7 linked regions of the Homo sapiens genome follow. The protein of the gene in region 6 purifies or fractionates together with the protein of the main gene of each other region. This does not show direct contact. Each region holds a gene or a part of one and is shown on either strand. Other genes may lie near its edges. The genes, in order: SSTR2, NELFB, TMEM192, SCARA3, SCCPDH, EIF2B3 and ABCF1.

Region 1 (4,557 bases), on a different chromosome or scaffold from region 6:
GTGAAGTGCCTGTCTACAATAGTCCTTGCAGAGCGGCTCAGTGAGTCCATGGCATTAAAGATATGACAGTTACTATGTATACAGTCAGTGAGGAAGGCAGCACAGCAGTATCTCCGAGAGGTGGGGCCCCACCAACACTCACACCACACCCCCTGCACGCTGCATATTCATTGGCAGGTGAGGGTGCTTTTGTTTTGTGAACAATGTCTTCTGGTCTTTAGTACGCATTGTGGTTTTCCTTTTTTTTTTTTTTTTTTTTTTTTTTTTTTTTTTTTGAGACTGAGTTTTGCTCTTGTTGCTCAGGCTAGAGTGCAGTGGCACAATCTCAGCTTACTGCAACCTCCACCTCCCAAGTTCAAGTGATTCTCCTGCCTCAGCCTCCCGAGCAGCTAGGATTACAGGCACGTGACACCACGCCCGACTAATTTACATATTTTTAGTAGTGATGGGGTTTCACCATGTTGGCCAGGCTGGTCTCGAACTCCTGACCTCGGGTGATCCACCCACCTCGGCCTCCCAAAGTGCTGGGATTACAGGTGTAAGCCACCACGCCCGGCCATGCATTGTGGTTTTCTTAATGCCCAGCTTTGTATGAAGTCCTCTAAAGTCCCCTTTGAGGAGTCGTCGAATTACATTTCCATTTTCTTTCATTAGGAAGCTATGTCTGGCCTGAAAAATAAAAACAATTTTATGGTTTCTCATAAAGGTGTAATTTTGCTTCACTCTTATTCACTTATTTTCACGATGGAGAGAATGAAATTGTTTCCCCACAGGAATCATAGTCCATTTTTTGCCTTTCATGTTAGTGATTTTTCCCCCTCATAGCTCCCTAAGAAAAACTAAAGCAATTTGAAAAGAAAAAAATGCAATCTTATAACAAAGTTGGCTTTGTCTTGATAAATACAATGATGGATGACCACAACCACTTAAGTCCTTTTGGGCAAATGAATAATTCTCTGACTATATCTGAGAAGTGGAAACACATGAATTTACATTCTGGTTCTTCAAATATCTTCTCCCTTTCCCTTCTTACATTGACCTCACTTGCCTGAAATTAATGAAGCAAATCCCCAAGGGCAGAGGCTAGAAGGTTTGTGAGGCTTGAAGCTTATACGAGGTTCCTCTTTAAGAAAAACAATACAAACATATCTTACTTTCACAATTTTTTACAAAAACATATGACCACATGAACATACTGCCCAAGTCCCTCCTGGGCCTTGGCAAGGCCCGTGCAAGAGAGATCCCTGAAGCTTGAACTTTATTGGCTTCACGGTAAGTCCATTTCTGCGGGCAGTGTGTTGTGGCAAATGTCCATCTACACTATGCATACTCGAATTTGCTACTTGTGTATGTAAACACAGGAACGTAGGTAATGCCTATACAGAGAATAAATAGGAATATACAAGTATACATATAAAAACACAAGATTACATATTGAGTTTTCAATACACAAACACACAGATACTTATTTTTTTCTATTTTTGTTGTTTCTAAAGATCATATCCAGGCATGATCCCTCTTCTCCAGACTTTGAATTGTCTACCTGCATTTCAGTGTTCGCTTTAAGGGGGAGGTAATCAATTTAGCACATTATCATTCAATCAGACAAGCTGACTCAAACACCGTTCTCTGAATTGGACTCATGCTGAGCAATCCTCTATTCTAGAAGCCAGGTGTGAGGGGTGGGAGGCAGGAAGCCAGTGTGGGTAGGGAGCCCATTGCCAGTAGACAGAGCATGGCTTGGTTCTTTCCCACCCCCCAAGCAGTTCAGATACTGGTTTGGAGGTCTCCATTGAGGAGGGTCCTCTGGGTCTCCGTGGTCTCATTCAGCCGGGATTTGTCCTGCTTACTGTCACTCCGCTCCCCATCATCTGTGCCGCTCACCTTGACCAAGCAGAGGACATTCTGGAAGCTCTTCTTGAAGTTGTCAGACAAGAAGGCATATAGGATAGGGTTGGCACAGCTGTTAGCATAGGTGAGGACCACCACAAAGTCAAACATGCCTTTAAGGGCTGGGGTGGGGCTGATGGCCATGGAGACGGAAGAAACGTTGAATATGTAGAAGGGAAGCCAGCAGAAGATGAAGACAGCCACCACGATGGACACCATTCGGGTGACCTTCTTCTCAGACTTCTTCCTCTTAGAGGAGCCCACTCGGATTCCAGAGGACTTCACCTTGATGATAATGAACAGGTAGCAAAGACAGATGATGGTGAGGGGTACCAGGAACCCCAGAATGAAAGTGTAGATGATGAACCCTGTGTACCAAGCCCCAGATTCACCTGGCCAGTTGATGGTGCAGCTGCTTCTCCCCCACTGGTTGCTCCGGAGCCCAGCATATATCATGATGGGCAAGATGACCAGCAGAGAGACTCCCCACACAGCCATGGTGATCATCTTGGCCGTCCGGGGTCTCCTCCACTTGGCCGACTTGATGGGGTGGACCACAGCCAGGTATCGGTCGATGCTCATGACTGTCAGGCAGAAGATGCTGGTGAACTGATTGATGCCATCCACAGTCATGACCACCCGGCAAATGGCCTTGCCAAAGGGCCAGTGGACCAGAGCCACCTGCATAGCCAAGAAAGGCAGACCCAGCATGAAGAGCTCATCTGCGATGGCCAGGTTGAGGATGTAAATGTTGGTGATGGTCTTCATCTTGGCATAGCGGAGGATGACATAAATGACAAGTGTGTTGCCACACAACCCAATGATGCAGACCACAAAATAGATGAATGTGAGGACTGCATTGCTTGTCAGGTCATAGTACGGCTCTGTCTGGTTTGAGGTGTTGGTTGACACCACAGAGCCATTGAGGTCAAATGGAATGGATAGCCATGTGTGGCTTCCATTGAGTGGCTCATCCGCCATGTCCATGGCTGCTTTTCAGTCTTAGGCTAGTTCCAGCCAGCCCAGAGATCTTATTCTCACCTTAATGGACCCTGGAGGCCAAGGATCCAGTGTGACATCTGGAAGGAAAAGAGGAAGATTGGCCCGTCGGTCACAGGCTGTTTAAAGTCTCACCAAATTTACACATTTCTGGTTTAGCCTCTCAGACATACTCTTAAATTGAAAAATGTATTATCTTTCCACATCAACATTAAGCTCTAGAGTTCCTCATCAGTGTGCAGACTTTTTGAGTTGTTTTTCCAATAGTAGGGAAGGGTTTGGGTTCAGCCATCATCTGCTGACGCACATGTCGGGGAGGGCTGTGGCTTCAAAAAGCACATACTTTGACCCCTAAGAAGTTGACTGATCTAAACTGCAGAAAGGCAGAGCTTGGAGAAGTTCAGCGCCTGACCTCAGAAGGGTCTGACACTGACATTCCTGGCCTCTTCCCTACCAGGAAATCTATGCTGACTTGCTGACTGCCTTGGAGTCTTTCCATTCTGAAAATGCCATAGTGGAAAAAACCCAGACTCTAGAGGCAGAACAAACCGGGTTCCACTGCTGAGCCCGTGTGACCACATGCCTGGTCCTTAATGGTTCTGACTCTTATTTCTTCACATGGGGGCGTCATGAAGGTTAAATGATGGAATATATGTGAAAATGCCTAGCCTTGCGTTGGGCTCATAATGGGAACCTCGTAAGTTGTTTCCCCCCATGTTTTCCTCTACCATCTCATTATCTCTGATTTATTGAAATCTACCTACGTGGTGAAACAATTTATAGTCTTCAGTATTAAAAATAAAAGTCTGGTTTGCTTTCATTTTTGAAATGTAGGCTTCAGTTTATTTTTTGTTTTTCTTCTATTTTTGTTTTCCAATACCTAATGCTTGACTTCCTCAAGAGCTCTTTCCCAAAGTCCCTAAGGGGATGCTGCTCCCAAGTGCTGTAACACTCCAGAGAATTTGCCTGCCATTTTCTAATTACGGACAAAAACGGGAAGCAGGTGTGGGACACAAGCTCTTTCACAGAAGTAAGCAGAAGGCTTCCAGTACTGATATAATTCATTCACACTCACGAGTCCCTTGATCTCCCCAACTGTCCTAGGTGGTAGGGATAATTACCCCCATTTTAGAGATGTGGAAACTGAGGCTTAAGAGAGTTTAAGGAGCTCACCCCATTCTCTTGCACATAATTGGTGGAGCTGGGATGTGAACACAGGCCACCTGGCCCCAAGTCTTTTGCACGTCTCAAGGCATCCCCTCTGCTCCTCAGTGGCCTAGAGACCGAACGGCTGATAACTGGGCTTTGGTTTGAAGCAACTGACTCCTGTGTTACTTCCTTGCTGAGAAAATAATTGGAGCACTATTGGCTTGGCTTAAGATCTAAAACAATAGTTCATCCCATAATTAAATGATTGATATACAGCCATTCAAAAAATATCACGGGGGTTGGGGGCCTGGAGAGGAGGCTTCTTTGTGCTGACAGCAGGGATGTAGAAATGAACAAACTTGGCCAGTGCCCTCTAGGAGGTGATAATTTAAAAGGGGAGATAGGAAAGGAAGCCAGCTCATATAGGGTGGGCATTGCACGAGAGATAAATGAAGGACTTAAGAATGCCTTCCTTTCCTGGGGGACTCAGAGGAGGCTTCCAAAGAGAAGTGTTTGAGC
Region 2 (4,557 bases), on a different chromosome or scaffold from region 6:
TCGAGACCAGTCTGGCCAACATGGTGAAACCCTGTCTCTACTAAAAAAATACAAAAATTGGTTGGGCATGGTGGTGGGTGCCTGTAATCTCAGCTACTTGGGAGGCTGAAGCAGGAGAATCCCTTGAACCTGGGAGGTGGAGGTTGCAGTGAGTGGAGATTGCACTATTGCACTCCAGCCCAGGCGACAGAGCGAGACTCCGTCTCAAAAAAACAAAGAGCAGGGACTTCTCCCAGTTCTGCGGGCTGGGATGGGAAGTCCGAGGTCAAGGGGCCTGCATCTGGCTGGGGCTTTTTGCTGTGTCATCCCATGGTGGAAGGCAGAGGGCAAGAGAGCACGGGCAGGGGAGACAGACAGACACAGACAGAGATGAGAGACAGAGACACACAGACCAAGATGAGAGACAAAGATGAGAGACACAGAGACAGAGATGAGACACAGAGAGATGAGAGACAGGTAAGAGAGACAGAGACAGGAGAGACATGGAGACAGACAGATGAGAGACACAGGACAGAGACAGATGAGAGACAGAGCTAGAGATGAGACACAGACAGACGGAGACAGAGAAGGGGCCACACTTACCCTTTTATCAGGAGCCACTCCTGTGCTAACAGCGAGAACGCTTTGGTGAGGACGGAGCCCTCACGACCTCAGCAGTGTTGCGTTGGGGATCAGGTTTCCGATGGTGAACTTGGGGACACGTCCACACCACAGCACGTGCCTATTGTGTTTCTCGGTGGCTGGTGTGTTTGAGGATGGCGCGTGCATGCGTTTTCCAGCTTTCTTTGTGGAGGAAGTTACCTGTGGGTATTAACCTGTCCCCAGCCATCCTCTCACTGAGCTTGGGTTGCCTGGGCCTGGGTTTCCTGTTGTTGCTGGAACGAATGACCACAGACAGTGGCATTAGACAGCGCAGGCAGACATGACCTCCTGGGCTTCTGCGGGTGCCAACACTGCCGCTCCTTCTGGAGGCTCAGGGAGGCTCTTGAGGGCATTGGGACATCGTGCTGCCGGCCGCCGGGCAGAGCCGGTTTGTTTATTTTTTGAGACTTCCGGGAACATAGTTATAAATAACTTTAATTTGCCTTGGCCTGCCCACTGCAGTACAGTCACGTGTCACATAACATTCTGTCTACCGTGGACCACATATACGACCACGCGGTCACATAAGCTGACAATACTGTATTTTTACTCCACTTTCTCTATTTAGATACACAGTTGCCATTGTGTCCCAGCAGCCTTCAGTACTCAGTACAGCCATGTGCTGTGCAGGTGTCTAGCTCAGGGGCATGAGGCCATGGCCCAGCCCAGTGTGCAGTGGGTGGCACCTTCTGGATTTGTGTCAGTCACTGTGGAGTTCGCACAATGACAGACTCACCTGGGAGGCCTTCCGTGCGCTTCTGTTTCTTTCTCTCATTTGATTGTGGCTAGAAACAGGCTGGGAACCAGGAGTGCAGCTTCTCGGAGTACGTGGCTGCCCCACGGGGTGGGATGTGCATTTTCAGTCACATTTGGGGAGAGCACGCGTGTTCTTAAGTTTTTAGCGGGTTCTAGTAAGAATGGATGTTGATTTTTAGAATTCTCTCCTGTTTATTTTTTAACATTTTGTGGTGGGAATTTGTGAAAGAATACGAAGTCAAGAGCATGGTACGGTGAGGACCCAGCACCATCTCCAACCTCCCCGGGGTCCACGTGGGGTCTGCGTGTGGCCGCCTGTCCCTCAGCACGATGTCTGGGTGTAAATCTGAGACATCACAGCATGCAGGCTGCAGACGTAGGCATCTCTACAAAAGAAGGATGCGTTTACAGGAGAATCGCTTGAACCTGGGAGGCAGAGGTTGCAGTGAATCGAGATCACGGCACTGCCCTCCAGCCTGGGCGACAAAGCCAGACTCCGTCTCAAAAAAAAAAAAAAAAAAAAGGGCGGGGAGCCGGGCTTGGTGGCTCATGCCTGTAATCCTAGCACTTTGGGAGGCCAAGGCGGGTGGATCACCTGAGGTCAGGAGTTCCAGACCAGCCTGGCCAACATGGTGGAATCCCATCTCTATTAAAAATACAGAAATTAGCCGCGTGTGTGACGCATGCCTGTAGTCCCAGCTACTCGGGAGGGTGAGGCAGGAGAATCGCTTGAACCCAGGAGGCAGAGGTTGCAGTGAGCCGAGATTGCACCACTGCACTCCAGCCTGGGTGACAGAGCGAGACTCCGTCTCAAAAAAAACAAATAAAAAATAAGACTGTCTTTAAATGCCTTTAAAAAACTGGCCAGGCATGGTGGCTCACCTTGTAATCCCAGCGCTTTGGGAGGCCGAGGCGGGCGGATCACCTGAGGTCAGGAGTTCCAGACCAGCCTGGCCAATGTGGCGAAACCCCATCTCTACTAAAAATAGAAAAATTAGCCCGGCGCGGTGGCGCACGCGTGTAATCCCAGCTGAGGGAGGCTGAGGCAGAAGGATCGCTTGAACCCGGGAGGTGGAGGTTGCAGTGAGCTGAGATTGCACCGCTGCACTCCAGCCTGGCTAACAGAGTGAGACTCTTCTCAAAAAAAATAAAAACCAGTGACCACGGACCACGGGCCACTGTCACATCTGAGCCAGGTTCACTGCCGCTCCTCTGCCGACTGACTGCCTGACAGTGGCTGCGCTTCTCCAGGTGTCTCCTGCCTGCTGTGTGGACGGTCCCGTCAGGGTTGGGATGCGCCTGCTGTCCCCTCTCCTGTCTCGCAGTCTTGGGTTCCCCGGAGTTGCAGGAATCAGGGCATTTGCCCAGTGGGGCCTTGCTGCTGGATCCCCTGGTCGGGACTGTGTGCCTGCCACGTGTCCCGTGGCCACCTGGCCATGTGGCCGGCCAAGGCCCTGTGAGATGTGGCAGGCAGGCACCTCGGGGGCCTGGGTCTCCTGGAAATGTTTCTGTCACTCTGGGCGCAGGTGGCGCCAGCTGGGTTGTCCTCATAAAGGCCCCATCCGGGATACTAGGAAGGCCATCCTCAACCTGTCCGCACACGTCACCTCCATGTGGCCTGGCCACAGCTCCTTCAGGCATCAGTCTGCAGGCGGCCGCCCTCCCTCCCTGCAGGGGCCCCGTTTGGGGCGTTGTGCTGGCTCTTGGCAAATGTCTGCCAACACCGTGGCTTCTGTGCTGTGGTCGCACGTGAGGCGTCTGTGGGCACGAATGCTGTCTTTGTTGTGTTTTGGTGTCTGGCTTCAGAAAAGAATGTGGAAGAGTTTCGTTCTCTTTCCTGTGGTTCAGTGTAGCTGGCAGTCAGGGAGAACTCTCTGCAGCTGGCGCCGGCCCTGTATTTGTTAGGCTTGTTTCTCCTGGGCTCGGCTGCTGGGCAAGGCCTTTTGGGACTGGAGGAGCACCTCGTTTTTCTGTCTCCTTCTTCCTCCACCCTCCTCCTGTCCCCGGGCTGTCTCCCCCTCCCTCCACCCTCCTCCTGTCCCTGGGCTGTCTCCCCCTCCCTCCACCCTCCTGTCCCTGGGCTGCAGCTCTGCTTCCCTGCCACAGGTCCCACCCCCTGCCTGCCTCTGTCCACTTCCCACCCCCCTCTTCACCTGCTGAGACCCTGTGCTTCTCATCTCAGAACAACTGAGAACTCTCATGTGAGCACCCCCAGAAGTAGGTTCTGAGGTCTTTGAGGACAAGGGTGCCCTCTGGGGTGGGCAGGGTGAGTGGCACTGGGCTGATGCCTGCTGTGTCTGCAGTGGAGACCTTTGGCGACTTGGCCTTTGGCGACATCTTCCTCCACCTGCTCACGGGCAACCTTGCGCTGCTGGCCGACGAATTTGCCCTTGAGGACTTCTGCAGCAGCCTCTTCGATGGCTTCTTCCTCACCGCCTCTCCAAGGTAGGCCTGCTGGGTACCATCCGGCCCGCTCTGTCCTCTCAGCTCTTGTCCGTAGCAGCCTGAGAGGTGGCTGCTGTCCCCAGCCTGGGGCGGAGGGTCCGCAGGTGGGTCTGTTGGGCACCAGGGCTCGCATGTGGCCCTGCAGGGTGCCTGGGCACAGCTGGGGAGGGTCCCAAAGGCTGGCCATGTCCTGTCTCCAGGGGCCTTGGCCACCTGCATCTGGGCTGGGCCTGGGCAGACAGCAGGGCCTGCCTCCTGCCCCAGCCCTGCACGGCCTTTTCCAGGAAGGAGAACGTGCACCGGCACGCGCTGCGGCTCCTCATTCACCTGCACCCCAGGGTGGCCCCGTCTAAGCTGGAGGCGTTGCAGAAGGCCCTGGAGCCTACAGGCCAGGTGGGTGCCCGGGGGGGCTGCATCTGAAGGCACCTGGTCCCTACCAGCCCGTGTGTGCTTGCCAAGCTGCCCTTGTGGTGCTTGTGTGTGGTCGGTGGGCACCCACCCCTGTGCCCCCTGGGCCTGCCCATGCGCCTCGCCTGCCCCATGGTGTGGTTCCCCGCAGAGCGGAGAGGCAGTGAAGGAGCTTTACTCCCAGCTCGGCGAGAAGCTGGAACAGCTGGATCACCGGAAGCCCAGCCCGGCACAGGCTGCGGAGACGCCGGCCCTGGAGCTGCCCCTCCCCAGCGTGCCCGCCCCTGCCCCGCTCTGAGGGCCCTC
Region 3 (3,434 bases), on a different chromosome or scaffold from region 6:
TCTTGGTGGTCTCACACAATCTCATGACTTTGATAGAATTTATGAGCTGATAATTTCCAAATGTGAATCTTCAGCCAGGCCTTCCTCCCTGAACTCCAGACTTATGTGTCCAACTGCCCCTTCTAGATCACTACTTGGGTATATAAAAAAACACCTCAAACAGAACATGTCCCCAGCTGAGCTATCTGCCACAGTCTCTTCCACCCCTGTAATGGCAGCTCCTCTTTCTCTCAAACCCTATAGACAGTTAATCAGCAAATCCTGCTGGCTTTTCCTTTAAAACATACCCAGAGTCCAACCAATTCTTGGCACCCCCAATGCTACTTCCCCAGCCACTATAATCTTCACCTGGACTATTATAATAGTCTTTCGGTTTTTTGGTTTTGTTTTTTTTTTTTGGGGGAGGGAGTCTCGCTCTGTTGCCCAGGCTGGAGTGCAGTGGCGCGATCTGGGCTCACTGCAACCTCCGCCTCCCAGGTTCAAGTGATTCTCTTGCTTCAGCCTCCTGAGTAGCTGGGATTACCGGCACATACCACCACACCCAGCTAATTTTTTTATATTTTTAGTAGAAAGGGGGTTTCACCATGTTAGCCAGGCTGGTCTTGAACTCCGGACCTCAGGTCATCCACCCGCCTTGGCCTCCCAAAGTGCTGCAATTACAGGCATGAGTCACTGTGCCTGGCCCTATTATAATAGTGTTTTTCTTTTTCTTTTTCTTTCTTTCTTTTTTCTTGAGATGGAGTCTCACTCGTGTCGCACAGGCTGGAGTGCAGTGGCGCAGTCTCGGCTCACTACAACCTCCGCTGCCCAGGTTCAAGCAATTCTCCTTCCTCAGCCTCCTGAGTAGCTGGGATTATAGGTGTGCTTTTTTTATTTTTAGTAGAGACGAGGTTTCACCATGCTGACTAGGCTGGTCTGGAACTCCTGACCTCATGATCCTCCCTCCTTGGCCTCCCAAAGTACTGGGATTACAGGCATGAGCCACCACACCTGGCCTATAAGAGTCTTTTAAGTGATCTTTCTGCTTCTCACTACCTCTCCACCCTGACCCCCCAGCCCCATGCACACACACAAAAAGCAGCCAACAATATCCTTCTAAAACACTACTCTGATGGTTCCCTTTTTCATTCAGTAAAAGCCAAAGCCTGGACAGTGGCCTTCAGGGACCTAGAAAATCTCCACTTCCCACCCCACCCCACCTCCTCTCTCCTACTCTTCCTTTGTGTACCCTGCGTCGGTCACACTGTGGCTTTTGGATTGCTAAGCACATTCTTACCTGAGGACCTTTGCGGTTGCTGTTCCCTCTGCCTGGAAGGATCAACTCCCATATATCTTTTTCAAGTCTTTGTTCAAATGTCACTTGTGGCCAGGTGTGGTGGCTAACCCCTGTAATCCCAGCACTTTGGGAGGCTGAGGTGGGTGGATCACTTGAGGTCAGGAGTTGGGAGACCGGCCTGGCCAACACGATGAAACCCTGTCTCTACTGAAAATACAAAAATTAGCCAGGCGTGGTGGCACGTGTCTGTAATCCCAGCTATTCAGGAGGCTGAGGCAGGAGAATCACTTGAACCTGGGAGGTGGAGGTTGCAGTGAGCCAAGATCGCACAGCTGTACTCCAGCCTGGGTGACAAGAGTGAGAATCCGTCCCCCCCCCAAAAAAAAAAAATCCTCCCACTTCAGTCAGCCTCCTGAGTAGCTGGGATTATAGATGTGCACCACACCACCACACGTAACTTTTATTATAGTATATTGCTATAATTATTCTATTTTGTTATTAATGTTGTTACTCTCTGTGCCTAATTTATAAATTTAACTTTATTGTAGTTATGTGTGGATAGGAAAAAATATAGTGTTCGTAGGGTTTAGTACTATCTGTGGCTCCAGGCATCACCTGAGGTCTTGCAATGATTCCCCTGCAGACCTGTGGCTCCAGGCATCACCTGAGGTCTTGTAATGTTTCCCCTGTAGATAAGGGGAAAATACTGCATGTAACTTACTTGTTTACTTTGTCTGTGTCTCCTGATAGAATGTAAGCTCTATCTTTTGCTTACTACTGTGTCCTTCATACATAGAACAGTGTCTGGCACAAAGTAGGCACTCAATATACGTTGATGAATTAATGTCACTAACTTCAGTGATTTCACTACTGGAATTGTAGTAGAAAAACTATGCTCACACATGCTCAAAGCCTGTTCCTGTAATCCAGCTGTAACCTGGGCTCTGTTTTCACTTTCTGTTTATGATGTCCTGAACTGAGAGATTATTTTTTTAAGGTCTTGTTTAAAAGTTTATGTCTAGGATACACTAAAAAATAACAACATATCAGAAATAAAAGAGATAAGACTGCTAGTTTTTATAATCACTGCTATTTACTATTGTCCAAAAGTGCCCATCAATACAGTTGGATAAAGGAGCAGGATTAATTTGTGCATGGGATGGTTATATATTAATATCTAGAAAATTTAAGAATTAACCATTAGACATCTAGAGAATTTAAGAAAAACCATTAGAAAGCAAGGGTGGCAGACTGTAAAACATGAAGATAACAATTTTCTTACATACCAAAAAGAACCAGTTTAAAATACAATTGGAAAGGTACCATTGCCGATTGCATATAAACATATATTCAGGAATATTTGTTAACCTTTTAGAGCTCTGCTCCTACTAATCCAGTCCCATATTAATAAATATTTAAGACATTTCTGTTATTATATAGGAACTAGATGTTCAGATAGAAATTTCAAATTGGGGCGGGGCATGGTGGCTCACGTCTGTAATCCCAGCAATTTGGGAGGCCACTGCTGGAGAATCTCTTGAGCCTAGGAGTTGGAGACCAGCCTCCTGTTGAAAAGACCCTCTCTCTGTTGAAAAAAAAAATTTTTTTTTTTTGAGACGGAGTCTCACTCTGTCGCCCAGGCTGGAGTACGGTGGCGCAAACTCTGCTTACTGTAATCTCTGCCTCCCAGGTTCAAGCGATTCTCCTGCCTTAGCCTCCCTAGTGGCTGGGATTACAGGTGCCTGCCACCACGCCCAGCTAATTTTTGTATTTTTAGTAGAGACGGGGTTTCACCAGGTTGGCCAGGCTGGTCTGGAACTCCTGTTAAAGTGCTGAGATTACAGGCGTGAGCCACCACACCCAGCCCACATTTGTAATTTAAATGAATAAGATAAAAATAACCTATTAGAAAACACATGGCCATGGCCGGGCGCGGTGGCTCACGCCTGGAATCCCAGCACTTTGGGAGGACGAGGTGGGTGGATCGCGAGCTCAGATGATCGAGACCATCCTGGCTAACATGGTGAAACCCCGCCTCTACTAAAAATACAAAACATTAGCTGCGCATGGTGGCGGGCGCCTGTAGTCCCAGCAACTCGGGAGGCTGAGGCAGGAGAATGGCGTGAACCCGGGAGGCGGAGCTTGCAGTGAGCTGAGA
Region 4 (4,557 bases), on a different chromosome or scaffold from region 6:
GTGTCCTTAGAGTGGGAGGCAGGGCCCAGCTCAAAGGATTTCAAGGCAGGGATGGCCCGTGCTCATTGGGAGGGGGAGGGACAGAAGAGGCATGGGGGGACTTGGGGACAGAGCGGTGGAATTGAGGGAGACTTGCTTTGAGAAGAAAGAATCTCTTTATCGGGAGGCAAGGGAAGGAGAAAAGATGGTTACAGACATAGACTCTGCATTACGAGCAGCTGCATTTAACCTTTTTATAACACATTTATTATTTTTTTAAAAATCAAAAAATTCCAAAAAGGAAAAACATTCACTCACGTGAACTCCTGCCCTGTAGAGATAATAAATGACAAAATGTAGATGAACATTCTTCAGAAATCATTCTGTGTATGTTTGCACAGATTTTTTTCATGTAGATAAGATTACACTATCCATGTTATTTTTATTTTTATTTTATTTTACTTTGAGACATAGTCTCACTCTGTGCCCAGGCTGGAGTGCAGTGGTACCATTGTAGGTTACTGCAGCCTTGACCTCCTGGGCTCAAGGATCCTCCCAGCCTCCCAAGTAGCTGGGACTATAAGCAGGTGCCACCATGCCCAGCTAATTTTTGTATTATTTGTAGAGATGAAGTCTCGCTATGTTGCCCAGGCTGGTCTCAAGCTCCCGACCTCAAGCAATCCTCCCTCCTCAGCCTCCCGATTACTTAGCGTTTTTGTTCTTAGTGCTGGTTTTTAGTTGTTGCTTTTGTTTTTGTTTGTTTGTTTCTTTGCTTGAGACAGAGTCTTGCTCTGTTGCCCAAGCTGGAGGGTAGTGGCACTATCATGGCTCACTGCAGCCTCAACCTCTTAGGCTCAAGCAATTGTCCTACCTCAGCCTCCCAAGTAACTGGGACTACAGATGCATGCCACCATGCCCAGCTAATTTTTGTATTTTTTGTAGAGATGAGGTTTCACCCTGTTCCCCAGGCTGATCTCAAACTCTTGGGCTCAAGTGATCCTCCTGCCTTAGCCTCCCAAAATGCTGGGATTACAGGCGTGAGCCACTGCACCCAGCTTGCAGTATTTTTAAAAAATGGTTTCATAACATCCCATAGTAAGACTCTACGAGCATTTATGTAACCAATCCCCTGGAGATGGGCATTTTAGCTATTTGCATTTTCCCTCAGATTTATCATAGCATGCAGTGATCACCTTTACACATACACCTTGGCCTAATTGTGTAATTATTCTCTTAACATGAAGTTCCTAGAAGGAGGATTACTGAGTCAAAGGGCACTCGCCCTTGCAGTATTGACAGAGGGTGCCAGGCTACTCAGAATGCACGAGAAGGCCTCTTTCCCCATCCCTCCCCCAGACTGGGTTTGAAGTGTAGGCATCTGGACAGAGTTAGTGGATGATAAAGAAAGAAGTTGGAACCTCATGGTCTTGATCCTTTCAGAAAAGGAGGGGGTGAGCTCATCTTTGGGGAATGAGGTGGGCTGACCTGAGGAGGAACCCAGGAATGGGAAGTGAGGATCCAGATGGCAGGACTTGGCTGAAGCCAAATGCATGCCCCCCTCTGACACTCTCCTGCAGCTCCAGGCTTCTCTAGTGCAATTCGAAGAAAGCAGGCTGAGGATGGAAGGGACCATGGCCAGGAGAGAGAACTACAGGCTCCATGGGGCAGAACTCAACCCTTGGGGACTGGGCTGGGCTTGGAGGTCAGGGCGAATGAGAACTTGGAGGAAGGAGAGCGAGGAAAGGCTGAGTGCATTGGGGATGAAGAAGGCAAGGGGCTTGAGATCAAGCAGATGGAACAGCAATAAGCCTTAAGCTCCAGAGGGCAGGCAGGATGTGTAGAGATGAGACAGTAAATCCCATGTCCAGAGCCCTGAGTTTCAACAGAAAAGCTGCTTCCATTCAAGTTGATGGCAGGAGACAGAATGAAGAATTCATCCAATCCAGGTGATGTCATTGTCCAGAACAGTGTTCCCTAAAGTCAGAGTCCCTCTGCCTCTGAACATAGGTCCCAGAATTAAAAGATACATTTATTTTTCAAGATCTGCAGGAAGTTCCATGACCAAATAAGTCTGAGAAACGTGGAGTTAAACACAGATTTAAATGGGCTTATTATTTTTTTTGGCAGGACTTTTCAAAATGCTTACTATGTGAATGTGAATCTCTAAGATGGCGATAGAGTATGCCATGTTTTCCACACTTACTTGATCAAATAATCCTTTTTCACAAAGAATAATTTGGGACTAGTGTCCCATAGGATATGTTTTGAAACACTGATTTCTTGTAAGTTGGAAATTGGTCCTGGGAGTGATGGGGGTTGGGAGATGGCAATAAATGGCAGCATTAATTGGAATAGGATAGAAAAATAATCCTAATAAAAGTGGCTGCTACTACTATTTATTAAGCATTTACGATGTACCAGGTACTTTTCATATACGTCTCATTGGATTTTCACAGCAGCTCATTGAAGCGGACGATCTCCCCACCATTTACGCATAAGGAACATGAAACTCAGAGGAGGGAAGTGGGGTGCCCATGCGAGACAGGGTAGGATTTGCAGGATCAGGGGTGACAACGGGGATCAAGAGAACTGGTGATTCCTGGCCAGGCATGGTGGCTCATGCCAGTAATCCCAGCACTTTGGGAGACCCAGGGAGGAGGATCACTTCAGGCCAGGAATTTGAGACCAGCCTGGGCAACATAGTGAGATCTTGTCTCTACAAAAAATAAGCAAGATTAGCTGGGTGTGATGGCACACACCTGTAGCCTCAGCTACTTAGGAGGCTGAGGTGGGAGGATCGTTTGAACCCGGGAGGTCTAGGCGGCACTGAGCCATGATCGCACCACAGCACTCCAGCCTGGCCAATAGAGCAAGACCTTGTCTATAAAAAGAAACAAAAAAAGAAAAGAAAAGAAAGCCAGTGATTCCCACCCCTCCCATCCCTCTGAATTCATGGGGTTCAGGGGAGTCGGGGGGGTTGGTGCTGTGGACAGAGAGGAGATCAGTGTGTAAGTAATGGGGGGAGTCTGTTGCATTGAGTGAGTAGCCTAGGTTCTTGTCTCAACTAGAGGCAGCACCAGCCTGCGAGCAGGTATTTAGAAATGGGTGGGCATTCGGGGTTGTCACAATGACCAGGGATTGCTATTGGCCTTTAGCGGGCAAGGCCAGGATGCTGAATGTCTGTGCAGAGTGGGCCGTGCTCATCTAATGAAGAATTGCACCACCTGGAATAGGGTCCAAGTTAGAAAAGTTGAGGGCAAGAAAGTTGTTTAGGATAAAGGGGATTTAGGATAAAGCAGGGATTTACCCACAACCTCTGTGGTTACCAAGAACAGGGTGGGAGGCAGCCAAAGGGATTCAGGTGGAGGTAGCAGGAACCGGGAGGGAAGCCTGTCTCAGAGCAGCAGATGTGGCTTTAGGGATGCAGGAGCTTGAGGATGGGGACCAAAAAAGGGGCGAGTGCTGGAGGAGAGAAACTGGCAGAGCCACGGAAGCAGAAAAGGACAACTTGTTGAGCAAGAAGATTTGAAGGGAAAGGACCTGTGTCTTGAGACCTGAGCGGGCAGGCGGATTCCCAACCGATTACAGACAAACCCACAAAGGAAGCCTGTGGAGAGGGGGTAGTGGCGGAAGGGCTCTAATGAAAACAATTTTGCAACCTTACTTATAGCGTTCTCCAACCTTAAACTAATAGCTATTCTGCACTTTAAATATAGCATTGGCTCCAGAGAAGACTCTGAAATCTTTATTTTTACCGATCCAATTGGCTGTTTTGAAAACCCACTCTGTGAACCCTGCAGAAGATAATTATCAAAATATGTTCCTTGAAGTGCCCAAAGAAAGACCTTTTATTCAGTTCCTCGAATCTCTCCCCCTTGTTGACTCAGATGGAAGAATGCAGTCCCAGAAAGGCGAAAGAGGGAACCAAGGACACATTTTTGGTCAACCAAAAGAAAGCCGGCATTGGTGACCACAGTTGAGTTAGCAGTTGGTTAACAGGTCCGGGCTATTTTCTACCCCCAAAGGGAGAGCTGAACCAAGCTCAACCCCAGTGGAGTCAGTGGCCGTGCTTAGCAATGTGCCAAGGCATGCACCCTCCATCAAACTTGCTACGTGGCTCTGTGAGAGCAGACTTAAAAAAAAAAAAGGAATTTCTCCTCTTGTGGCTGTCCTTTCTGGAGTTTGAGATGGATATTGTGACCTAAGGGATGACAGGAAGAGAGGCCCTTTCAAATTTCTAGTGGTCACCACTATTTTATGGGTCTGGGTTTGCAGCCTTGGCCTTGGCCTTGGCCTTCCCAGGCTATTTAACTTTTTTTTCTAAGCACCTTGCCTGCGATTTGGGTAGTAATCACTGCAAGAAGATTGGGGCCTGGCTGTGCCTTTCACTAGGAAATCCATGGGGCTGGCTTCTTTATGACAGGGACCATGGCCCTCCCTCATAGCAGCTGTGGTCCCTTGGGGCCTTGGGATCAGAGCAGGCAGAAACTGGCTCATGGAGTCTTAGATGTTCGTTCTTTCATGATTCCCATGCTGTCCCAAGTTTGTTCCCAGAGAGGAGTTTTCCCATAGGTTTTT
Region 5 (3,898 bases), about 200 Mb from region 6:
TATGAATTTACTTATAAATCACTTAAATTGCCTACCAAATGAATAAAACACACATTTTAAACATATTTAAATAGAACTAAAGTTGAGATTAAAACAGAAGTTGAAGCTCCATATGCTTTCTGCACCCAGTGGATTATCCTGGTTGATCCTTAGGGTTTGCACACATCCATTTTAAAACTCATTTGGAGCTTTCTCGGCCTTGTTCTTAAGTTATTTCACCCCCAAATTTCTCAAGTTGGCCATGAGTCCACCTGCTTTAGAATCACCTGGGTTGCATGCTGGTCACTCACTCCCACTCCAGACCCCCAGAATCAGGCTTTCTGAGGTAGACTCCAGTAACTTGCATTGTAAATAAGCCTCACAGGTGATTCTTGTGTACTTCAAAGATGGAGAATCACTGCCCCAGACATTCTCCCAGGAAATCTCACCTACTCTCCCAACTTCAATAAAATCTGTGCTGTGACCTCCAACCTCTATGTCTAGAGTTGCTCACTGATAGGATTTCCCTCTGTTTTTTGTTAGAAAGGTCAGGACCAGTGAGAGCACAGGACATGTAGCATGAGTCACACATAAAACTAATTTCACTTTGCCTACATTTTCCTTTTATTTTCTCTTCCCCCTGATTTTCTCACTTACTTATAAAACATCATATACAAACAGTATATTATTTGTATTTTCTGTCTTGATGCAAGGTATCTAGCAGACACCTCAATTTCAACAAGTCTAAAACCGAATTCATCATCTCTCTCTCTAAACCTATTTCTCCTCCTCCACTTCCTAGCACGTGCTTCAATGTGTAGCCTCTAGGCCAGGTGTGGTGGCTCAAACCTGTAATCTCAGCACTTTGGGAGGCTGAGGCAGAAGGATCGCTTTGAGACCCCATTTCTCTAAGAAAAAAAGTGTGTGTGTGTGTGTGTGTGTATAAAATATGATGCTACGGACTATATATAGAGGCCATATACTTATTATATATATATATTATACATATAAGGACTATATATATATGGCATATATATATAAACACATGGCCAGGCACAGTGGCTCACGTCTGTAATCCCAACACTTTGGGAGGCCAAGGTGAGTGAATCACTTGAGCTCAAGAGCTAGAGACCAGCCTGGGCAACAGGGCAAAACCCTGTCTCTACAAAAAATACAAAAATTAGCCAGATGTGATAGCACCAGTCTATAGTCCCAGCTACTTTCAGGGCTGAGGCTGGAAGATCCCTTGAGCCCAGGAGGTTGAGGCAGCAGTGAGCTGTGTTCGTGCCACTCTACTCCAGCCTGGGCAACAAAGTGAGACCCCCATCTCAAAAAAATAAAAATAAAAAACAAAGTATAGCCTCTAGTTCAGCCTGCCTGGGTCCCACTTCTAACATCTTTCTGTTGTGCTCAAAAGAGGGAAGACTCTGAGACAAAACTGAGCAAATGGCTGAACAGCAGAGTGGTCTAGAGTGTGGGCTTTAAGTCAGGCCACACTTACATCCAGGCTCTGCAGCCACTAGCTGTGTGACCCTGGGCAAGTCACTTTACCTCTCTAAGCATCAACCTCTTCAATCAAAGAATGGTGATGAATAACAACACTCACTTCCCTGGGTAGTTGTGAGGATGAAATAAGAGAATACAAAGAGCTTAGTGTGGGGCCAGGCACATGGTACTCAGATGGCTTCTTTTTTTTATTTAATGGCATTACTCCCCACATAATTCTCAGGTTAAAACCTGGAAGCAGGCTGGGTGTGGTGGCTCATGCCTGTAATCCCAGCACTTTGGGAGGCCGAGGCAGGTGGATCACCTGAGGTCAGGAGTTCAAGACTAGCCTGACCAATTTGGTAAAACCCTGTCTCGACTAAAAATATAAAAATTAGCTAGGTGTGGCGGCATGAGCCTGTAGTTCCAGCTACTCAGGAGGCTGAGACAGGAGAATTGCTTGAACCCGGGAGGTGGAGGTTGCAGTGAGCCTAGATCGCACCACTGCATTTCCGCCTGGGTGACAGAGCAAGAACCGCCTCAAAAAAAAAAAAATCTGGAAGCAGTCTTTCATGCTACCTATCCTGGAAGTCACCAAGTTTTATCAATTCAGTTTCCTAAAATTATCTCAAATCAGTCTCCTCTCCCCTGCACAATTATATCTTAGTTCAGACCCTGTCAACACTCATCTAATTTACTATAAATAGGCCCTAACTGGTTATACTGCAGCCAGCTAGCCCCATCTCCAAATACATAACAAATTGTTATTCTAAAATAAAAATGTGATGTCACCTTTCCTCCTGCCTCACTCCTATAACATATCCACTCTTCAAATCTGATAGACTGGATTAAGAAAACGTGGCACATATACACCATGGAATACTATACAGGCATAAAAAAGGATGAGTTCATGTCCTTTGCAGGGACATGGATGAAGCTGGAAACCATCATTCTGAGCAAACTATCACAAGGACAGAAAACCAAATACCGCATGATCTCACTCACAGGTGGGAACTGAACAATGAGAACACTTGGACACAGGGTGGGGAACATCATACACTGGGGCCTGTCGTGGGGTGGGGGGCAGGGGTAGGGATAGCATTGAGAGAAATACCTAATGTAAATGACGGGTTGATGGGTGCAGCAGGCCAGCATGGCACATGTATACCTATGTAACGAGCCTGCATGTTGTGCACATGTACCCTAGAACTTAAATAAAAATAACAAAAACAAAAAAATCCCTACAGTATATAGTACAAAGTCCAAATTTCTTAGCATGTCACAGAAAGTCCTTAGTATCATATCATACCACAGCCCCTTAATTCTCATGTTCCAGCAGTTCTAAATTCCATGTAATTCCCCAAGCATGCTGCTTCTTCACACCCAGTGTGCTTGCTTCCACTACCTGGAGCACCCTCCCTTCATTCTGCTGGGCCAACTCCCAGCTCCTCCAGGCTCTGCCTTACAGCCACAGGCTCACTTCTCATGTCTGGCTAGTGAGCCCATCAGCTAGGCAGTGTATCTATGAGTACTGGCAGGCTGCAGTGAAGTATTAATGAGCTTATTAAAATAATCGTAGCTCCTTCTGGAAAGAAAACGCATTTTCCTATTTGCCAGTCTGCCCATTCCTTACTTTTACTGCATTTTGTCACATCTGGCCCACTTCTTTGAGTAATCTGGAGTTGAGACTTCTCACTAACTTATTCCTATTTTATGAACTTGCTAGATTTTTCTCCACTTAGTACCCTGTGCTTGTCTGAGACAGGTGAACAGTCAGAGTAGCAATCCTTCATCTCGGGGAGACACTTCTCCCCTGTGAGGCCAATTGGCTCAAAGGTCAGAACCGCAATCCTGCTCTCCATGTCTCATCTTCTTCTTTTTTCTTTTTGAGCTGGAGTTTCATTCTTGCTGCCCAGGCTTGAATACAATGGCGCAATCTCAGCTCACTGTAACCTCCGCCTCCCGGATTCAAGTGATTCTCTTGCGTCAGCCTCCCGAGTAGCTGCAATTACAAGTGTGTACCACCATGCCCAGCTAATTTTTTGTATTTTTAGTAGAGACAGGGTTTCACCATGTTGGCCAGGCTGGTCTCAAACTCCCGACCTCAAGTGATCTGCCCACCTCAGCCTCCCAGAGGTTTGGGATTCCAGGCATGACCCACCGCGCCTGGCCCTCAAAGTTCCATCTTCTAACCCAGTGGTCTCCCAAGTAGTCTTCCCCTAAGGGAAGCGCAGAATGATCCACTGAGGGTGGAAGTAAATATCAGAACTTTTATCCATGTTAATGTTTACAAAAACATGACGTTCCGTTAACGGTTACTATATGGACTGACTACGAGACATTCCCTGGGCCATGTTAAGTGGTCATGTGTTGAAGACAGGACACAGCAGGTATCCTGATGGGGTTGTGGGAAAGTTTCCATCACACAGAGAGG
Region 6 (4,557 bases):
CCTTGAAGTTTGTGAGATATGGGGAACAAATAGCTTCCACTGAAGGAGAAGCAGTGTCCTCAAAGATAAGCCAGGCCTTAATGAAGGCAGGGGGTGGAGAGGGGGACAGTAAAGAGGCTGAAGGTATAAAGGAACTCTGTATTGTATAGTAGGCCCAGGAGGAAGGTTTTGGGAGGGAGGAATAATAAGACTAGGAAAAGGAAATGCAGAGCAGTAAAGGGTTTAGATGAGAATAAGAAAAGAGTCCGGGCACGGTGTCTTACGCCTATAATCCTAGCAATTTGGGAGGCCGAGGCAGGTGGATCGCTTGAGTCCAGGAGTTCGAGACCAGCCTGGGCAACATGGCAAAATCCTGTCTCTACAAAAATACTACAAAAATTAGCCAGGTATGGTGGCATGTGGCTGTAGTCCCAGTTACTTGGAAGGCTGAGGTGGGAGGATCACCTGAGCCTGGAATGCAGAGGTTGCAGTGAGCTGAGATTGCACCACCGCACTCCAGCCTAAGCCTAAGCAACAGAGTGAGACTCTGTATTAAAAAAAAAAAAAGAGGATAGGAAAAGATAAATAATTGAGGGAACTACATTGGGGTGGCATTCAAGGATAACAGAGGTGAGATAATGAAAAGATTAGTTATTGACATTGCTCCTGGTAGAACCCTGTGAAAATATAATTGCAGGTGTAGACCAGGGTGGCAGTGGAGCGCAGAATAATATAAAAGAAATTGTTGAAAATTGGGATTGAGGCCGGGCACAGTGGCTCACGCCTGTAATCCCAGCACTTTGGGAGGCTGAGACGGGTGGATCGCCTGAGGTCAGGAGTTCGAGACCAGGCTGGCCAACATGGTGAAACCCTGTCTCTACTAAAAATACAAAAATTAGCCAAGCATGGTGGCATGCACCTGTAATCCCAGCTTCTCAGGAGGCTGAGGCAGGAGAATTGCTTGAACCTGATAGGTGGAGGTTGCAGTAAGCTGAGATTGTGCCACTGCACTCCAGCCTGGGCAACAGAGTGAGACTCTGTCTCAAAAAAAAGAAAAAGAAAATTGGGATTGACTCCTGAAGAAAACCTGGCTCAGGAATCTGTAGGACCCACACCAGATAAAACCTCAGGTGAGCCTCAACCTGTATTGGTTACAGATCCAAGGGAGTCCCAAGCCAGAGAGCTTATGAGAAATCATAGCTAGTCCCACATTTACCCATGACTAGCATCTTTCACGCTGGTCTGGAAAGATGTTCATGGATAACCTGAGTGGGAAGACTTGTCCAGATCACAGGTGCACCGCTGTGTCCACATCATGAAAGAGGGACCCTGCTCTCGAGTGAGCATGCTGGGAAAAGTATCCTTTGAAGTGCCAACAGGGACTATGCAGCAGACGGGCCTGAAGGGCCTTGGGTGGAGTGTGGAAGAAGAGAACCTAGGGCTGGGGGCTTGGAATTAGCCTTCACATTCCAGTGTAGCCGTGCTGACAAGGCCTCCGTCAGCTAGTGTGGCTGCCACGCACAGTGCTCTGACCAGCATTCTGTCTATGCTGGAGAATCATAGACAGGCGCACTACCTGTGCCTTCCTAATAGACTGGTAGCCAAAGCCCCCCATACCTCTAACCTTTCCAGGTTTCTCACACTGGAGAGGGAATAGTGTGAACTTCCCCTTCATGTTTTCTTTTGGCTGGGGGATAGATGCCTTCTCAGGGTCTGTCCTTGATTTCGAATTTGTCTAAAATGGATCTCATCCTCACCTCATGCGTGGTCACAGTGGTCCAGGAGGTGACCAGGAACCCAGGATGCTTATGATCAGGATGCGGGGTGTTCCTTGACCTGATCAGGCCTCCTTTCCCAAGAGGTGGTATGTGGGTATCTCAAAGACTGGTCTCAGTGCCTCCCAGCCAAGGGACATGGCATTACTTTCAAGGAGGAGCATTCAAAGCTAAGAGACTGACAATAAGGCCATCTAGAAGCTGCTGCATAAATAATCTTGGTCCTAGGGGGAATGCAGCAGCCTCCTGCTCCCCCTCACTCAGACAGGAAGCTATGGCTGAGAACTCCCTGTATCTCTGATTGAGCACTGGGTTCTACCTAAGGTGTTTTTTTTTTTTTTTTTTTTTTTTTTTTTTATTGATCATTCTTGGGTGTTTCTCGCAGAGGGGGATTTGGCAGGGTCATAGGACAATAGTGGAGGGAATGTCAGCAGATAAACAAGTGAACAAAGGTCTCTGGTTTTCCTAGGCAGAGGACCCTGTGGCCTTCCGCAGCGTTTGTGTCCCTGGGTACTTAAGATCAGGGAGTGGTGATGACTCTTAACGAGCATGCTGCCTTCAAGCATCTGTTTAACAAAGCACATCTTGCACCGCCCTTAATCCATTTAACCCTGAGTGGACACAGCACATGTTTCAGAGAGCACAGGGTTGGGGGTAAGGTCGCAGATCAACAGGATCCCAAGGCAGAAGAATTTTTCTTAGTACAGAACAAAATGAAAAGTCTCCCATGTCTACTTCTCTCTACACAGACACAGCAACCATCCGATTTCTCAATCTTTTCCCCACCTTTCCCGCCTTTCTATTCCACAAAACCGCCATTGTCATCATGGCCCGTTCTCAATGAGCTGTTGGGTACACCTCCCAGAGGGGGTCGTGGCCGGGCAGAGGGGCTCCTCACTTCCCAGTAGGGGCGGCCAGGCAGAAGCGCCCCTCACCTCCCGGATGGGGCGGCTGGCCGGGTGGGGGGCTGACCCCCACCTCCCTCCCGGACGGGGTGGCTGCCGGGCGGAGACGCTCCTCACTTCCCAGACGGGGTGGCTGCCGGACGGAGGGGCTCCTCACTTCTCAGACGGGGCGGCTGCCAGGCAGAGGGTCTCCTCACTTCTCAGACGGGGCGGCCGGGCAGAGACGCTCCTCACCTCCCAGACAGGGTCGCGGCCAGGCAGAGGCGCTCCTCACATCCCAGACGGGGCGGCGGGGCAGAGGCGCTCCCCACATCCCAGACTATGGGCGGCCGGGCAGAGACGCTCCTCACTTCCTAGATGGGATGGCAGCGGGGAAGAGGTGCTCCTCACCTCCTAGATGGGATGGCGGCCAGGCAGAGACGCTCCTCACTTCCCAGACGGTGTGGCGGCCGGGCAGAGGCTGCAATCTCAGCTCTTTGGGAGGCCAAGGCAGGCGGCTGGGAGGTGGTTGTAGCTAGCCGAGATCACGCCACTGCACTCCAGCCTGGGCACCATTGAGCACTGAGTGAACCAGACTCCGTCTGCAATCCCGGCACCTCGGGAGGCCGAGGCTGGCGGATCACTCGCGGTTAGGAGCTGGAGACCAGCCCGGCCAACACAGCGAAACCCGTCTCCACCAAAAAAATACGAAAACCAGTCAGGCGTGGCGGCGCGCGCCTGCAATTGCAGGCAGTCGGCAGGCTGAGGCAGGAGAATCAGGCAGGGAGGTTGCAGTGAGCCGAGATGGCAGCAGTACAGTCCAGCTTTGGCTCGGCATCAGAGGGAGACCGTGGAAAGAGAGGGAGAGGGAGACCGTGGGGAGGGGGAGTGGGAGAGGTAGAGGGAGAGGGAGAGGGAGAGCTACCTAAGGTGTTTTCTGATCTTTAGTGACCAAATCTCTGTCCTTAAGGTGCCCAAATTGCTGTCTGCTCTCTGTCCAGAAGAACCACCAGTCCATTCGTCAGCCCAGATTGTCAGCAAACACCTGGTAAGTGCTAGTGTGGCCAGGACGGGCATGAGATGTTCTTTGGGAGCATCGAGACTTGTTTTTGAGAAGCCGGATTGAGGCCTTTAAGTCCTGAACCTCATCAGCCCCAGGGAAATCACAGTGGGTTCTGAGAATAAAATCTCACTCAACAAGACTGCCTGGGCAAGTAATGACCTTGTAAGGAAGGGTCCATTATAGTGTTGGGACTCAGACACAGGAGCTCTCAATCTCAGCCTGAAAGACTCTAGTCATGGGTAAATGTGGGACTACCTATGATTCTCATAAGCTCTCTGGCTTGGGACTCCCTTGGATCTGTAACCAATCCAGGTAGAGGCTCACCTGAGGTTTTATCTGGTATGGGTCCTACAGATTCCTGAGCCAAGTTTTCTTCAGGAGTCAGTCCCAATTTTCTTTTTCTTTTTTTTTGAGACAGAGTCTCACTCTGTTGCCCAGGCTGGAGTGCAGTGGCACAATCTGTCCCCCTTCTAACTCTGATTTGAGCACACTCTTTAAGAGAGCACATCTGTATACACAAGTGCATGAGTGTGTATATGTGTCTGTTGTTTTATTTTGTTTTCTTGGCAAGAGAGGAGGGCCCATGCTTCAAATAGGTTTGAGTTGGTCTCAGAGGTGTTGTATGACCTTGTGGCCCTGAGAAATACTGATCATGGTCCCTCTTGCTGAAGTGTCTCTATGGAAAGATCCCATTAGATCCCAGCTTGAGGGATCTGGAGGGTGGTTTGCAGTTGGTTGAGATGGGTGGACAGAGTTTTATATTTTGCCTTTTACAGGTTGGAGTTGACAGCCTCATTGGGCCAGAGACACAGATTGGAGAGAAGTCATCCATTAAGCGCTCAGTCATTGGCTCATC
Region 7 (4,557 bases), on a different chromosome or scaffold from region 6:
TCCAAGCTAAATAAATAGCCATGTGAAGGAGGTGGGAGGTCCAAGGGAGGAGAAAAGATCTTGTCAAGAGAGGAGATAGGCAGGGCACGGTGGCTTACACCTGTAATCCCAGCGCTTAGGGAGGCAGAGGTGGGAGGATAGCTTAAGCCCAGGAATTTGAGACCTGCACACTCCATTCTCCACAAAAAGAAAAAAAAGAGAGAGACAGGAGGTAAGGTGAGGGTGGAGTGGAGGGCCAGTGGGCCAATGTGTGGCAGAGCACAGCCTGCTTGGATTGCTCTTGGAAACATGTTTACCTGTAGCTTAACTCCCTTTATAGTTCTTTGAAGAGCTGGCAGTAGAAGATAAACAGGCTGGGGAAGAAGAGAAAGTGCTCAAGGAGAAGGAGCAGCAGCAGCAGCAACAGCAACAGCAGGTACAAGTGCCACAGGGCCCACCAATCCTGGGAGGCATCTGGGTTCCACCAACCCCTTTCCAGCCCATGTTGCTCCATTCAGCTGATGGGGAACCCTCTGTGAGGCAGAAATACAGCAGGGGCCTGGGCTTCATTTTCTCACTGTTCTTTTGCTCTCAGCAGCAAAAAAAAAAGCGAGATACCCGAAAAGGCAGGCGGAAGAAGGATGTGGATGATGATGGAGAAGAGAAAGAGCTCATGGAGCGTCTTAAGAAGCTCTCAGTGCCAACCAGTGATGAGGAGGATGAAGGTAAATGACCTGAGGGGGAATGGGTACCTGGAATCCATGAGTCATGGAGAGTGATACCTCATACCCTGATCTTCAAGTTGGATTCAATTGGGGGGCCAGACATTGTAATTCTTTCCTATCTCATGTTCTCCCCCTGTCATTTCAGTACCCGCCCCAAAACCCCGCGGAGGGAAGAAAACCAAGGTAAGCCATCTGTGTGGTAAACGGAGACTCCAAGGATGCAACCTTGACCATCCTACTGACTTCTGTGGCCCTTTCATTCTCTAGGGTGGTAATGTTTTTGCAGCCCTGATTCAGGATCAGAGTGAGGAAGAGGAGGAGGAAGAAAAACATCCTCCTAAGCCTGCCAAGCCGGAGAAGAATCGGATCAATAAGGTGACAGTGGTGGCTCGATCAGTCACTCTCACTCCATTTAGCACCTTCTGGCCATGGTGGAGTAATTTCCCGCTTTTAAACTAGCTCTTCTCGGTCTGTCTTACTTATACTGTTAAAATCATCTTTTTAGAATACATGCCCAGGCTGGGCACAGTGGGTCACGCCTGTAATCCCAGCACTTTGGGAGGCCGAGGTGGGCGAATCACGAGGTCAAGAGATCGAGACCAGCCTGACCAACATGGCGAAACCTCATCTCTACTAAAAATACAAAAATTAGCCAGGCGTGGTGGCGTGCGCCTGTAATCCCAGCTACTTGGAAGGCTGAGGCAGGAGAATCACTTGAACTTGGGAGGTGGAATTTGCAGTGAGCTGAGATTGAGGCACTGCACTCCAGCCTGGGCAACAGAGCAAGACTCAGTCTCAAAAAAAAAACAACAAAAAAAACCATGCCATTTTTATCACTCAGAAATCTACAGTGATTCTGTTGCTTTAAGCACAGAACCTGAAACAAAGCCCCAGGTCCTTGCTCTTCTACTTGTGACTCTTCTGCGTGTGCATCTTAGTCCATGTCCATTTGAGCTCTTGAGAAAGCCTCCAGTGCTAGTGCCACTCACTCTGGTGGCGCACTTGCCTGACTTATAATCCTTAGCCTTGCTGACGTTCCCTAGTTATCTCTTCGCTATCTAGTCTGAAGCTGGAGGGTAGGGTTTTTCTGGGTCTCATTTTTCGTCAGCAGCACTCAATACAGATGGTCTCCAACTTCTGCTTCGGTGTACGATTTTTCTACTTTATGATGGTGTGAAAGTCATACTCATTTAGGGTACTCCTCAACTCATGATGGGATTATATCCAGATAAACCCATCATAAGTTGGAACTATTTTTTTTTTTTTTTTTTTTTGAGACGGAGTCTCACTCTGTTGCCAGGCTGGAGTGCAGTGGCGTAATCCTGGCTCACTGCAACCTCCGCCTCCCGGGTTCAAGTGATTCTCCTGCCTCAGCTTCCTGAGTAGCTGAGATTACAGGCACGTGCCACCACGCCCAGCTAATTTTTGTGTTTTTAGTAGAGACAGGGTTTCACCATGTTGACCAGGATGGTCTCGATCTCTTGACCTTGTGATCCACCTGCCTTGGCCTCCCAAAGTGCTGGGATTACAGGTGTGAGCCACCACGCCCGGCCAAGAACTATCATTTTTTATTTAAGTTTCTGGTGGGTTTATCGGGATGCAACCTGTCGTAAATGGAGGAGCATGTGTATGGTTAACACAGTAGACTCTCTAGAAATGCTTATTACACAGCAAAGTAGCACAATAATTTGTATGTATGTGTGTAATGTGTATGTGTGTCTCCTCCAGGCCGTATCTGAGGAACAGCAGCCTGCACTCAAGGGCAAAAAGGGAAAGGAAGAGAAGTCAAAAGGGAAGGCTAAGGTGAGAGAGTAACTAGCAGGAGGAGGTATTGGGGCCCAGGAATTAAAACATTTCATCAGGGCTGGGCGCGGTGGCTCACGCCTGTAATCCCAGCACTTTGGGAGGCCGAGGTGGGCGGATCACGAGGTCAGGAGATCGAGACCATCCTGGTAACACGGTAAAACCCCGTCTCTACTAAAAATACAAAAAAAATTAGCCGGGCGTGGTGGCGGGCGCCTGTAGTCCCAGCTACTCGGGAGGCTGAGGCAGGAGAATGGCGTGAACCCGGGAGGTGGAGCTTGCAGTGAGCCGAGATTGCGCCACTGCACTCCAGCCTGGGTGACAGAGCGAGACTCCGTCTCAAAAAAAAAAAAAGAAAAAAAAAAAAAACATTTCATCAGACCTGTCTTTTCCCTATTAGCCTCAAAATAAATTCGCTGCTCTGGACAATGAAGAGGAGGATAAAGAAGAAGAAATTATAAAGGAAAAGGAGCCTCCCAAACAAGGGAAGGAGAAGGCCAAGAAGGCAGAGCAGGTGTGTATTTGGTGTTGGGGCAAGGTGGAATGAGGGACTAGGGCTTCCAGGGTCCTTATGGGAGAGTTAGAATCTGGGGATATAGTTATTATCCCAGCAAACCTTTATTCTTTTCTTTTTTTGGGGGAGTAGTTGGGGTGGTGGTTCGTTTGTTTTTGTTTTTGTTTTTGTTTACACAGGATCTTACTCTGTCACTCAGGCTGGAGTGCAGTGGTGTGAACACGGCTCACTGAAGCCTCAACCTCCTGGGCTCAACAGATTCTCCTGCCTCAGCCTACTGAGTAGCTGGGACTACAAGTGTGCACCACTACCCCTGGCTAATTTTTTTATTTTTAGTATAGAGATGAGGTCTCACTATGTTGCTCAGGCTGGTCTTGAATTTCTGGGCTCAAGCAGTCCTCCTGCCTCAGCCTCCCAAAATGCTGGGTTTACAGGTGTGAGCCAGCATGCCAGCCAGCAAACTTTTTCTATAAAGGGCCATATAGTAAATGTTTTTGGCTTTGCAGGCCACATACAATCTCTATCACATATTCTTTTTTTTTTTTAACAACTCTTTGAAAATACAAAAATTATTTTTATAAAGTTCAGGAGCTATATAAAAATAAATGTCAGGTCAGCCTTGGCCCATGGGCTGTAGTTTGCAACACCTAATCCAGTGAAGAAAGGGCCTGGAATTTATCTCAGATGATCTGGGTCCTGGCTCTGCCTTCACTGGCTGTGTGACCTTGAATACATCTTCCCATCCCCTTGGGTCTCACTTGTCTCCTTTGTGTGATAGAAGGAGGAGTCCGGAGATCTCTAGGGTCCCTATGCGTCTGGCACTTCCTAATTCTGTGATTCTGCTGGATTCCTCTGACTGTGCACTAGAGCTTCCTGATCTTTTTTTTTTTTTTTTTTTTTTTGAGATGGAGTCTCACTCCGTTGCCCAGGCTGGAGTGCGGTGGCGCAATCTCAGCTCACTGCAACCTCTGCCTCCCGGGTTCAAGCAATTCTTCTGCCTCAGTCTCCCGAGTAGCTGGGACTACAGGCACGTGCCACCATGACCGGCTGATTTTTTGTGTTTTTAGTAGAGACAGGATTTCACCATGTTAGCCAGGATGGTCTTGATCTCCTGACCTTGTGATCTGTCCATCTTGGCCTCCCAAAGTGCTGGGATTACAGACATGAGCCACCGTGCCCGGACGGCTACCTGATCTTTTCTTTGCATGTTAACAAGGAAACCACAGAAACTCATTTTATACAAATGAAACTCTTGAAATCCATTTACTCCACCTTCAGTTACATTGTATTGGGAGTTACATTTATAGGGACATAACGCGTTGTCACATTTCATAAATACACATTCATACCATTTGTCTTGTACCATTCCTGGTAGCAGAAATTAATAAAGGACCTCAGGGAGACCAGGGGCTGGGTATGAGAATGAGAGAGGATCCCAAGATATTTTAGGACTCTGAGTAGTGAAGGAAAGAGCTGGGGCAGGGACAGGGGGCAGATGATGTGAAATCTGAGTTCTAGAAGGAGTCCCTAGTTTTT

The links.
Region 1: the proteins of EIF2B3 (region 6) and SSTR2 purify together in Homo sapiens (co-immunoprecipitation; one large-scale study listed by IntAct). This does not show direct contact.
Region 2: the proteins of EIF2B3 (region 6) and NELFB fractionate together in Homo sapiens (co-fractionation; one large-scale study listed by BioGRID). This does not show direct contact.
Region 3: the proteins of EIF2B3 (region 6) and TMEM192 purify together in Homo sapiens (co-immunoprecipitation; one large-scale study listed by IntAct). This does not show direct contact.
Region 4: the proteins of EIF2B3 (region 6) and SCARA3 purify together in Homo sapiens (co-immunoprecipitation; one large-scale study listed by IntAct). This does not show direct contact.
Region 5: the proteins of EIF2B3 (region 6) and SCCPDH purify together in Homo sapiens (co-immunoprecipitation; one large-scale study listed by IntAct). This does not show direct contact.
Region 7: the proteins of EIF2B3 (region 6) and ABCF1 fractionate together in Homo sapiens (co-fractionation; one large-scale study listed by BioGRID). This does not show direct contact.

The regions. Positions count from the first base shown.
Region 1 is NC_000017.11:73,167,640-73,172,196, reverse strand, and holds part of SSTR2 (somatostatin receptor type 2), read right to left. Parts: intron 2,970-4,557; 5' UTR 2,878-2,969; coding exon 1,768-2,877; 3' UTR 1-1,767.
Region 2 is NC_000009.12:137,268,380-137,272,936, forward strand, and holds part of NELFB (negative elongation factor B), read left to right. Parts: intron 1-3,701; coding exon 3,702-3,843; intron 3,844-4,127; coding exon 4,128-4,236; intron 4,237-4,402; coding exon 4,403-4,549; 3' UTR 4,550-4,557. UniProt on the Homo sapiens protein: Essential component of the NELF complex, a complex that negatively regulates the elongation of transcription by RNA polymerase II.
Region 3 is NC_000004.12:165,069,523-165,072,956, reverse strand, and holds the end of TMEM192 (transmembrane protein 192), read left to right. Parts: 3' UTR 1-2,349; downstream 2,350-3,434.
Region 4 is NC_000008.11:27,639,961-27,644,517, forward strand, and holds part of SCARA3 (scavenger receptor class A member 3), read left to right. Parts: intron 1-4,557. UniProt on the Homo sapiens protein: Seems to protect cells by scavenging oxidative molecules or harmful products of oxidation.
Region 5 is NC_000001.11:246,730,515-246,734,412, reverse strand, and holds part of SCCPDH (saccharopine dehydrogenase-like oxidoreductase), read right to left. Parts: intron 1-3,898.
Region 6 is NC_000001.11:44,874,747-44,879,303, reverse strand, and holds part of EIF2B3 (translation initiation factor eIF2B subunit gamma), read left to right. Parts: intron 1-3,608; coding exon 3,609-3,686; intron 3,687-4,477; coding exon 4,478-4,557. UniProt on the Homo sapiens protein: Acts as a component of the translation initiation factor 2B (eIF2B) complex, which catalyzes the exchange of GDP for GTP on the eukaryotic initiation factor 2 (eIF2) complex gamma subunit.
Region 7 is NC_000006.12:30,577,499-30,582,055, forward strand, and holds part of ABCF1 (ATP-binding cassette sub-family F member 1), read left to right. Parts: intron 1-319; coding exon 320-415; intron 416-577; coding exon 578-704; intron 705-849; coding exon 850-887; intron 888-971; coding exon 972-1,079; intron 1,080-2,432; coding exon 2,433-2,507; intron 2,508-2,907; coding exon 2,908-3,021; intron 3,022-4,557. UniProt on the Homo sapiens protein: Isoform 2 is required for efficient Cap- and IRES-mediated mRNA translation initiation. Isoform 2 is not involved in the ribosome biogenesis.